Linked DNA regions of Homo sapiens. The protein of the gene in region 3 purifies or fractionates together with the protein of the main gene of each other region. This does not show direct contact. Each region holds a gene or a part of one and is shown on either strand. Other genes may lie near its edges.

Region 1 (3,967 bases), on a different chromosome or scaffold from region 3:
CTCCCAGCCCCGCTGTGGCTCCCAACCGAGGTCACTGGGTGCGGAGCATTTGCCGCAAAGGCCCATCCGAGTAAGGGGCGGAGCCTAGGGACTTCCCTGGACTCCTGGCTCCTCCTGGCACCCAGAGGCGACCCGAGGTCCCCGGGGTGGGCACGGGTCTCTCTAGGCCCCAGGCCCCTGAGGAAGGTGGATCAAAGCAATCACCCAGGTTCCCTTTTTTCTTTGGGGGGAGGAGGGTGGATAGCTGCTAGAAATGGACAACTCACCCCAGAAAACCCCGGCCGTGCAAGCGCAAACAGCCCAGCACCAGTGGCAACCCCTGCCGCACGCACGCAGCCACCTCGCCAGGCCCAGGCTGTCTCGGCTTGGGTGCGTCCCTTCAACCGTGCTTCTTGCTCCTTAACCCCTTCAGTGGTCCCCACGTCACCCGCTCTGTCTCCCTCCTGGGGACAGCCTTGCCCTCCCAGAAGCTGTCAGCCAGGAAATGAAGGGTTAAGCGTTGCTTCCAGGAGTGTGCGGTGAGCGGTGAGCGAGGCGCCCACGCAGGAAGGCCTCCAGTCCTGGGGGAGGGGCGGGGGGGCCAGCCTCGGTCCTCGGCCAAAGGGAGCTCCTCGCCCGCAGGAGGCGGAGAAGGAAGGCGCGCCGGGATGGTTCTAAGAAGGCTCCCCTCCTCCGCCCCCGCCATGCCGCCCCCACGCCCCCACCCCGCCGGCGCTCAGTGACCTGGGGCGCCCCTGCAAGAGGCCCATACCCGGCTTTCATCAGGCAGCGCCTTCTCGACAACTTTTCTCCCTCTCTCCCCTCACAATTTTTGCTCACCTGGAGGGTCGGTTTTTAATTAGTGTAATATCCCCGTGAACAACGCAGCCTAATTAAGACATCCGTCCCGAATCCGCGATGCACACTTAATGAGCAGGTTCTGCCGCAATGTTTATACTTTTTTTTTCCATTATGTTTTGCAGACCAGTAAAACCGAAGCCGGCTTCCGGCTGAAAGACCTCATTACGGGCGACCCCACTCCATTAGCCTCCTACCTGCTCCACGCTAAGTGCCCGGGGCGCCCGGGTGCATGCCCAAGGCGTCCCCGAGTCCAACCTGCGTTTGGAGCAGGAAATTAGCAACCTGCGCGCCCGAGAAGCGACTTCACCACCAGCTGGGGCAGGAAGGGGGACTTAAACCCAGGGATGGATCCCTTGGGTCTCTGTCCTTAGCCTCCACCGTGGGGTGTCTCGCGCGTCGGGACTAGCGGCTCCGCGGGACTCCTTTTTAAAAGTGATCATTAAATAAATCAGGTACCTCGCCAAAGCTGGAACGGAAAGGGGAGGGGGAGGCAGCTCTGTTGTCCAGGAGTTTCTCCCCACCTCGCTGGGCCCCCGCCCCCACCAGTGGACTCCGGGAACATCCCACCCCCACCCTACGTGATACCAGGGATCCCAGGGCCGCTTGGGGACCCGACAGGTTCCCAATGCCCCTCCACGCGGGGCGCCGCGTCTCGGTCCCCGCACCGACACTGCAGGGCTGCGCGCCAGGGGAGGCTCCGCGTCCCGGGGAGGGAGGCTGCGACCCCCAGCACCAAAATGACCACTGGCCTCGCGCCACCCCGAGACGCCACAGAAGACCACCTTCCCGAGCGTGCGAGCCCAACACGCCCCGGGCGAGCCCCACCACCGCCCGGGGCCACCAGGGCAGAAAGTTTGGGCCAGGGGCGTGCCCGGCTTTCCCAGCCCGGCCGCGCTGCTCGAGGCCCTGGGGGTGGCCGAGGCTTCAGAGAGGCAGCCTCTGCTCCCGTTCCAGCCTTCCTATCGTGCTTGGGGACTCGGCCCGGAGCGCCCCCAGCCCGCCCCCTGTAGGGCCCTGCGCGCCGCTCGCCCCTCGCTGCTCGGCCCCCGCGCACACCGCGGTGCTGCGGGCCCCGCTCCTATTTGGGGAGCTGTGGCAGCCCCTTCCTCCCCACAACTCCTTTGGGTCATCAACCTCTCAGCGACCCTCCTTTCAGAGGACCCCGGCAGGGCTCTCTCCGGGCCTGGGTGCCGCGACAGACGCACGTTGCACCACCGCCGGGTCGCCAGCCTCTCTCCCACCCGCGCGGGCTCCGGCTGCCTGCTCGGACGCGCCCCGCGGGGCCGGGATCTCCGCGCGCCTCTGCCTCCCCCCGCCGGGGAGTTCCCCGCGCCGGGCATTGTGCCGCCGCCGCCGCCGCCACAGCCACCACCACCGCCACCGCCACCGCCACTGCCACCGCCACGCAGCGCGCGGGACTCCCTGGCGTCTCCATGGAGCCCGACCCCCGGGCCTTCCCATTCACAAAATCGCCCCTCTGGCCCACGGCCGGACAGAGCGTCCAGACCCCAGCCCCGGAGGGACCCAGGGACCCCGACCCCGCGCAGGGACCCCTGACCCCGAGGGCGCCACCCCACCCCACGCGCCCTCGGGTCAGCCCCGGCCGCGCTCAGCAGCCCGCCTCCCACTGCGGGGTCCCATGCGCCCCTCCGCGGCCATGTCCCCCTCCCCCAGCTCAGCCCGATGGGAATGACCGCCGCAGAGCGAGGCGGGCGACGAGGCCAGGCTACTCACGGGCTCAGCGCTCCCCGCGGCAGGTGACTGGGGGCCGGCGGCCATGCCCCGGCTGCATCCCGGCCGCCGAGCGGGCAGCGGCGTCCTGGGGCCGCACAGGCACCGGCGAGCCAGCGGCAAGGGGCGCGCGAGGCCGGGCTCGGGCGGCAGCTGTGGCAGCTGCTTCTCCTCCGACCACGCGAGCTGCTGGGGCCCGGCTGGGGCCGCTGTCCGAGGAGGTTCTGCTGGCTTCGGAGCAGCCCCGCGCTCGCTCTTCCCTCGCCTCCTCTCTCTCTCTCTCTCCTCCCTCCTCTCTCCGCCCTCCTTCTCTCTCTCTCTCTCTCTCTCTCTCTCTCTCTCTCTCTCTCTCCGCCCTCCTTCTCTCTCTCTCTCTCTCTCTCTCTCTCTCGTTCCTCTGGCTCGTTCGGCTGGAGCGAGGCGGCAGCAGGAGCACGCGGCGGCGGCGCGGGCGGCGGTGGCAGCTCGAGCGGAGCGCGCAGCGCGCGGCATGGGAGGGGGCTCTGGCTGTCGCGCGGCCGGGGAGGGCGGCGGAGCGGGGAGAGCCATGACCGGGTGGGCTTCGGCGGTCAGCACCCTGCAGCCTTCAGCGCCAACTCCTCGGGGCAGGGGCACAGAAGAGGTGGGGTACACACGGAAGATCCCAGAACCCAGTGCTGCCCTGGTCCCTTCAAGGGCAGCCCCAAGCCCGCTGCCCCTCCCCACCTCCAAGCTATCTTGGGGGCGGATCAACCCAGGTGACCCTTAACAGGACCCCTGCCCTTGTGCCTCGCTGTCCCTGGGGGCCATTTTTCTTTGCCAGGCCCAGGGATCCCCAGCAATGGGACGTGGTCACCAAGCATCAGGGACGAATGCCACCCCACCCCGCATGCCATGCCATGCCTTTGAGTTGCCCACATACCCCAAACCCCCTCACTAGGCCCAGGTGCCCTGACTTCCTGGAGGACCACTGGAAAGGAAGGGATCGGGCCCACTCCGTGCTGTTAGTCCAGATTGGCCAACCCAACCCATTTAAACATTTCCACCTGTGCCTGGCTGGAGAGGAAGGACTGTGGGAGGTCAGCTTAGGATTTCCCTAAAATCAAAAGATCAGGTAGCTCCTGTCCCCAGTCCCAGCCTCCCCCAGCATCTAGAGTAAGGGGCCTGGTGTGAGTTCTGGGAGGGTCTCTATCCTTGGTGCAGAGGGAGCAGGAGAGCAGAGGCTGAGGACACAGTGGAGTGGGGACCCTCTGGAAAGGCAGGAGAGATCTATTGCTGGGGTCAGCCCACCACTGGCACACAACACCAGAAGTGGGCAAGAAGGTCTGGACGGTCCCAAACAGGTTTAGGCAGGAGGCTGAGTAATCATTTCCAAAACAAAAGACATTCTGGTGCAGCAACCAGGCTGGAGAAACGA
Region 2 (3,500 bases), on a different chromosome or scaffold from region 3:
CCTTTGCTGGCCTGGACCTGGTTTTTATAGATGCCTTAAGTGGGTTGTTGCCTTGTGTGCACAGCCCCAGAAATGTCGTGCGCTCTTTTTGAGTGAGGGTTTGGGGAACAAGAAAGAATCCAAGGGCTCCCTCGGGTCTTTTGCACACATCCTTGGCTCGGGGGTCCCTGTGAGTCCAGCACGTCGCCGGACCATTCGCGGCAGTAAACACAACTTGGGATCTGCATCTCCCTAAGGGAACTTCGCAAGGTGCACCCACAGCTTTTACTGTTTCCAGTTTAATATTCAACCTGAATCTGGGGCCAGCCGAGTGGAGGCTGGTGCTGCTCTGCCCAGCTCCTGTTCTGTTTAGAAACATGTTTATTGCCTTAAGAAGGAGCCAGTTCTTTCACCCAAACAGGATGGGCCTGGAGTTCCTCCAGAGGCTAGTGGGCCCATAGCAGGGAAGGAGGGATGTAAGCTGTGGATAACCGACCGACACGTGTAAGATTGTGCAGTGTGACCCAGGCGTGGCTGTGCGCATGTGAGTGGACCTGTCGGCCTGACCTTCAGGACCAGGGAAAGGGGGAGCCCTCACTGCCTTCCCTCCCAGGACGAAGCAAACCAATCAATGGTCTTAAGGGTTTCTTTTCTTCTGAGGCCTAGTCCTGCTGTGGGCAAGGTTTTTCCAGTGGGATACATTAAAATCAACTTCGGTGGCTCACGCTTCTAATCTCAGCACTTTGGGAGGCTGAGGCGGGCGGATCACCTGAGGTCGGGAGTTCGAGACCAGCCTGACCAACATGGACAATCCCTGTCTCTACTAAAAATACAAAATTAGCCGGGCGTGGTGGCACATGCCTGTAATCCCAGCTACTTGGGAGGCTGAGGCAGGGGAATCGCTTGAACCCAGGGAGGCGGAGGTTGCAGTGAGCTGAGATTACGCCACTGCACTCCAGCCTGGACGACAGTGCGGCACTCTGTCTCAAAAAAATAAATAAATAAAAAATGGCTAAAATGGTAAATTTTTTGTTTGTTTGTTTGTTTGTTTGAGACAGAGTCTTGCTCTGTCGCCTGGGCTGGAGTGCAGTGGCACAATCTCGGCTCACTGCAATCTCCGCCTCCCAGGTTCACGTCATTCTCCTGCCTCAGCCTCCCGAGTAGCTGGTACTACAGGCTCCCGCAACCACGCCCGGCTAGTTTTTTTGTATTTTTAGTAGAGACAGGGTTTCACTGTGTTAGCCAGGATGGTCTCGATCTCCTGACCTCGTGATCCACCCGCCTCGGCCTCCCAAAGTGCTGGGATTACAGGCGTGAGCCACCGCGTCCGGCCTAACATGGTAAATTTTATGCTATGTGTATTTTACCACACACACAAAAACACGTGTCGAGGTGTTTTCCCAAGACAGTGTCTCGCAGACGTACGTTTTACACTATGATTTTTACTTTTCAAGAACTGTTTTAAAGCAGTATTTGCCTTATAATAGGTAGGTGAATGTTCTAGCTGCAAGAGAAACCGGAGTGGTCTGGTCACTCAACCAAAACCTGCTGAAGCAGACCCCTGGGGCACACTGGGAACTTCTACCATCCCAGGTGGAAAGGTTAGTCTGATGTGCGTAAGCAAACCTTGCACTTCTGTGCGCAGGACGGTATCCTTGGGCCAGGGCAGCCACCTGTTGTCCAGAATCCCACAGGGCACGTCTTACCCACTCCTTTTATGTTTGCCTGAGCCCAGGGGTTGCTGTTCTTGGAGAAACACCAACCACCCCCACTTGACTTCTGGCCCATTCGGATCCAGAAATGTGCAGTTTTAAAGCTGCAGCACCTTCCATTTAGGTCCCAGCTCTCCCTCTGGAAAATGCCTGCTCCTCACCAGAGATTCCTCCCTGGAGCACCTGCCTGAAGCATAGCTTTCAAGCTGGTGGTTTTAGAAAGTTAAGAGCCGGCTTCAGAATTCCGACAGGGTGGGATAGCATAGGCTGTGACTTTCTTAGCACACACAGCTGGTTAAAGAGAACTGGGAACGGGCTGGGCGTGGTGGCTCACGCCTGTAATCCCAACACTTTGGGAGGCCGAGGTGGGTGGATCACGAGATCAGGAGTTCGAGACCAGCCTGGCCAACATGGTGAAACCCCATCTCTACTAAAAATACAAAAACTGGCTGGGTGTGGTGGCGGGTGCCTGTAGTCCCAGCTACTCAGGAGGCTGAGGCAGGAGAATCACTTGAGCCCGGGAGGCGGAAGTTGCAGTGAGCCGAGATTACGCCACTGCACTCCAGCCCGTGCGACAGTGCAAGACTCTGTCTCAAAAAAAAAAAAAAAGGGAGAACTAGAACGAAGCATCTCTTTGCTCAAAGTGATCTTCTCAACTGGGGGTTCCTTTTCAGAAGGCCCCCAGGGTGCAGGGTGGTGTTTAGGAGCCTGGAGTGGACCATGCTCGAGTGGAAAGGTGTTTTCAGCAGGGTCAGCCTCTTTTTTTGGTAGAGATGGGGTCTCACCATGTTGCCCAGGCTGGTCTTGAACTCCTGGCCTCAACTAGTCCTCCCACCTTGGCCTCCTGAGTAGCTGAGATTATAGATATGAGCCACTGTGCCCAGCCAAGGGCCAAGCTCTTGAAGCCCTTCTGGGAACTCTATCTCTAGCCTCTCATTACTCAGAATCTGTGTGATGTATTCCAGTAACTTCATAAGTTCTGTGAAAAGAAGGTATACTCCAAAGTTTGTAACGGCTTCTCAAAAGTCACTTATCTTAAGTGGAAGCCCTTCTAATACTTACACAAAGATTAAGGCAAATAATGTGGCTGCGCAACGTGACTCTCACTCGTAATTCCAGCATGGTGGGAAGATCACTTGAGGCCTGCGGTTCAAGGCCAACCTGGGTGACAGAACAAGACCCCATCACACACACACACACACACACACACACACACAAAATAAATAATAATAATAATAATAAACAAAAAAACAGGCCAGGAGCACTGGCTCACACTTGTAATCCCAGCACTTTGGGAGGCTGTGGTGGGTGGATTGCTTGAGATCAGGAGTTTAAGACCAGTCTGGGTAACATGGCAAAATCTCGTCTCTACTAAAAAGAGAAAAAATTAGCTGGGCGTGGTGGCGCCTAACTGTAGTCTCAGCTATAGCTGAGGTGGGAGGATCACCTGAGCCCAGGAGGCAGAAGTTGCAGTGTGCCGAGATGGTGCCATTGCACTCTAGCCTGGATGTCAGCACAAGACCTTGTCTCAAACAAAACAAAACAAGGCCGGGCACAGTGGCTCATGCCTGTAATCCCAACATTTTGGGAGGCCAAGACAGGAGGATTGCTTGAGCCCAGGAGTTCAAGACCAGCCTGGAGAGCATAGCGAGACCCTGTCTCTACAAAAAAATAAAAAATTAGGCCAGGGCGGTGGCTCTCGTCTGTAATCCCACACTTTGGGAGGCCAAGGCAGGCACATCACAAGGTCAGGAGTTTGAGACCAGCCTGACCAACATGGTGAAACCCTGTCTCTAGTAAAAATACAAA
Region 3 (4,079 bases):
GCTCCACCATATCTTGATCATCTGCTTGCGGAGATGCAGGGCCCACATAAATGAAGAGAAGGGGTCCATAGTATAAAGAGACAGAGAAGAGATGGGCTCCACAGGTGGAAAAGGCTTTCCTTACACCTTTATCAGATTTCTTTTTTAAGATTGCGAAGAGAACAAATGTATAAGATACAAGAATAGTCACAATGCTGAATACCTGAATTGAACCTGAGAAAATAAAAACCATTAGAAAATTAATAGAAGAATCAGTACAAGAAATCTTAGACAATGGGATAGTGTCACAGTAAATGTGATGTACTATGTTGGAGTTACAGAAGGTTAGTCTGAATAAAAATCCTTCATGGATTAAAGCATGAAGAATACCACCTACATATGACAAGATTAATAGCCGGATGCACAGTCCATTGGTCATAATGGCTGGATAAAGTAAAGGTTTGCATATGGCTACATAGCGATCATATGCCATCGTTGCCAAGAGAAAACATTCCGTGGTTACACTGATTGCAAACGAAAAAAACTGTATCTTGCATTCAGAGAGAGATATCATCTTACTCTTAGCTAAGAAGTTATTCAGCATCTTTGGGGTCACTGTGGATGATATCCAAGCATCCACAAAAGCTAAATTCCCAAGGAGTAAGTACATTGGGATATGAAGGTGAGGGTCTTTCCAGATGACAGCAATCAGACCAAGATTCCCCATGATGGTGATGAGATATATTACCAAGAATGCCAGGAACAGGGGTATTTTCCACTGTGGTTGATATAAAAATCCTGTGAGAACAAACTCTGTCAGCAATGTTGCATTTTCCTCTTCCATGTCCTCACAGCATGCCCTCTAAAATAAAATGCAACAAATGAAAGGGAACATTTGCAATGGCATTATCAGTTGAAATTGGGGAAGAGGTGCTGAAGGAAAACCTAAAATGATCAGAACCCTCTCAATTTTTTGATCAGTCCTATAGCTGATGAATCTCTATTTGTTGCAATAAAGACATGAAAAAATGATATATTTTGGTTTGAAACTGTGCAGTAATTAGCAGATTTAGGTAAAACAAGAGGCATTCTCTGTATGCACAACATTTATATGGACACTATTGAGTGCAGTAGAAAAATTGTTTGACTGGCATATGATACAATGTCAACAGGAAAGATTTTTGTACGGTCTGAATTAAAAATAAATAAAATAAATGCCATGTGAAGTATCTTAAACTTTATTCTTCATACAATAAGCATGTGCCAAAAATTTTAAGATGGGAAATTACATCCTAATTTTTTTTAATTTAGTTTTTGATAGTGTAGAAAATATGCTGCAAGAAGAAGAAACTGTACTCAGGGATATTAATTAGAAACTTGTTAGTAAGGCCCAGGCAATCCCAAATCACATTACACATAAAAATTATCTGAGTGAGTTTTTATGAAAAATATGTTATGAGGTTTTAATGTAGAAGTTATTTAAGGAATTAGGTCTGGGGATCTGCATTTTGAAAATACCCTCCGGGGGATTCAAATGCATGTTAAATGTATGGTCTTGGTGTGATATGACATTGAAAGAGACAGTAAGACAAAGAAATAGATTCTAAAGAATTCAGAATGTAGAGTCTCTAGTATTCTGTGACATATTTTGTAGGCAGTAAGTGGTCAGTGAAGGAGAGAGGAGTCCCTTGGTGACTGGGAAGATGGATATTAAACATTGAGAACTCAGGTGTGCTGACAAGTTTTTGGAGTGAGCATCATCTGGACAACTAGATGTGTTCCAATCAGTAATATGAGCCTATTAGAGCTCAATAGAAATGATTGCTTGGATTCATTGTGGTAGTCAAAGGCAGTCAAAGGCATAGTTAAAGATGATGCATCCTTGGAGTGTAAAACAGAACCAAAAGGAATGGCAAGAAAATCAACTTGAGCAAGTTATATTAAGGAGGTAACAAGGTGGACATATGTCCTGTAAATGGCCAAGGTGTGATCTCCTTTTTTGCCATCGAAATCATAGTGGCTGTCAGAGGTAACATACTGCCAAAAGAACTAGAAACTCATTTTCCCATTTTTCTTACATCTAAAGTGAAGGGACATGATCTAGGATGGCCAATTAAATACACTGATCCTACATTTGGAATATGGAGAGAGGGACAAAAGATATTGGTTTCAAGGCAGCCAAAGCCAAAATACCAGGACTTTACTTAATGCAACCTTTATTCACATCAACAAAATTTACAGTGTGAGCTCTCAAATTATTGTCAAACATGAGTGTAAGGATACAGGAGTTAATATGTAAGTGACTCACCTTAAAAGTTTTAATTGGAGAATGTGGTTGATTCAGAGGAATGGGTATTTATATCAGAATAATTCCAAGAAATAATTCTAAGAATCATTATTATCTGAATCTTTAAACCAAGTTTTAGTTGTTTAATGCCCTAATTTATATAAACTCATCATAATAAGATTAACAAAATAGCAAAATATTAAAGGAAAAATTCAGTCTTATAACTCTTTATCCATATTAGAGTCATAAAACTAAAATATAAAAATAGTCCAGTCAGAGTCATCCAGTTTCTGACTTTCTATTATGACAACTTGTTACCCAATCTAAAATTTTAATGAATTAAATGGCATTATCAACATTTCTATAAATTATAATAAAAATTAGAGAAGTTATTTCTTCCTTACCCATATATTGAAGGAAATTGTGGATATCCTTTAAACACGTTGTGCTTTCTAAACAAAAATACATACAGTAGCACAGCAATGTCAATAATACAGGTAGCCATTCATGGCATATTCATTCTTTTTGAAGGTTTCTTTTTCCAAGCATAGAAAAATGTTGTTTATTAAATATGCTTTGAGCACATAAATGACCCAGTTGTGCCACTAGGGTCTTTTGCCAGAAGAGAAAGGAATGAAAAACTGAAATTCTCATAACAGTGTCAGAGGACTCCCTGTAGGACAAATTGAAGCTGTTCTAATGGGCATTGTGCATTTGCACAAGTGTAAGTTCAGGTTGTCCCCAAGGGCATTACAAACTTCTGGAATCACAAACATCATTTCATGGTAGACACTTCTAGTTTTAACAATTGAAATAACACTTTATGTTACTATTTACCACCATGGATGACACTTCTGGCATATTTGTTCAAACTTTAGTTTATATGTAAAATTTACTGTTAGTGCTTTAATTAGTATAGTCTTATTTGAAGTAACCAAAACATAATTTTAATAAAGCCAAAGTTCTAGATCCTCTTTGGGAGCAACCTCAAATACAATTGTCCTTCCCATGCAAATTTCAGACATGCAAATTTTAGACATATATTTAGATCCCCCATTATAAGCTAAAATCCAATGGGAAATTTTACTAGGAAGAAGACAAAAAGCAAATGTAAAACAAAGCCAGGGAGTGGCTTGCAGTGGGAGGTGTCCTAGGTCTGTGCTTCTCAAACTATAATGCCTATGATTTTCCTAGTGATGTTGTCAAAACGCAGATTCTGTTTCAGTAATTCTGGGGTGGGTCTCTCAAGAGCCTTTATTTTTAACAAAGCAGTGCCTGTGGACATTTGCATCCAACAGGTCTTCATGGTGGGAAGACCTAGATTATCAGAAAGCCTTGATCATTGAAGAAACAACAAATAATAAATGTGGCTGGTATGCAAAGAGAGAATCAGGAAGGACCAAGTGTGTTCAGGGAGGCCAGCATGGGTGGGACCTTGTCGGGTAGTTCAAAGATATGTTCTTTACCCCAACTTACAGGAAAACCAATGAACTATTATTGAACGATTTTGAAAATGGTGATAGCATGTTCAGAATTTTCTTTAGAGCATTAACAGAATAACATGTTAAGGAGCATCCATTCAAAAAAGAAAACCTAATTTACCTACTTGTAATATTTATATTTCATATTTAAATAGTGACATGTACCTTTCTTGACAGCAAAAGTATTTATTAAAGAAATAAAATTGCCTGCACTTGGATTATGGATGGTGATATGGTTTGGATTTGCTGCTCTACCCAAATTTCATGTTGAATTCCAATCCCCAATGTTGGAGAGGGTCCAGGTGAGTGGTGATTGGATCATAGGGGTGGAC

What was found. Proteins that work in one complex are often made in the same cells at the same time.
Region 1: the proteins of OR5H1 (region 3) and RBFOX3 purify together in Homo sapiens (affinity purification with mass spectrometry; one large-scale study listed by BioGRID and IntAct). This does not show direct contact.
Region 2: the proteins of OR5H1 (region 3) and TBC1D24 purify together in Homo sapiens (affinity purification with mass spectrometry; one large-scale study listed by BioGRID and IntAct). This does not show direct contact.

The regions. Positions count from the first base shown.
Region 1 is NC_000017.11:79,608,252-79,612,218, forward strand, and holds the start of RBFOX3 (RNA binding protein fox-1 homolog 3), read right to left. Parts: upstream 2,801-3,967; 5' UTR 2,575-2,800; intron 911-2,574; exon of another isoform or gene 820-910; intron 363-819; exon of another isoform or gene 267-362; intron 1-266. UniProt on the Homo sapiens protein: Pre-mRNA alternative splicing regulator. Regulates alternative splicing of RBFOX2 to enhance the production of mRNA species that are targeted for nonsense-mediated decay (NMD).
Region 2 is NC_000016.10:2,492,127-2,495,626, forward strand, and holds part of TBC1D24 (TBC1 domain family member 24), read left to right. Parts: intron 1-3,500. UniProt on the Homo sapiens protein: May act as a GTPase-activating protein for Rab family protein(s). Involved in neuronal projections development, probably through a negative modulation of ARF6 function. Involved in the regulation of synaptic vesicle trafficking.
Region 3 is NC_000003.12:98,129,442-98,133,520, reverse strand, and holds the start of OR5H1 (olfactory receptor 5H1), read right to left. Parts: upstream 2,801-4,079; 5' UTR 2,671-2,800; intron 842-2,670; 5' UTR 824-841; coding exon 1-823. UniProt on the Homo sapiens protein: Odorant receptor.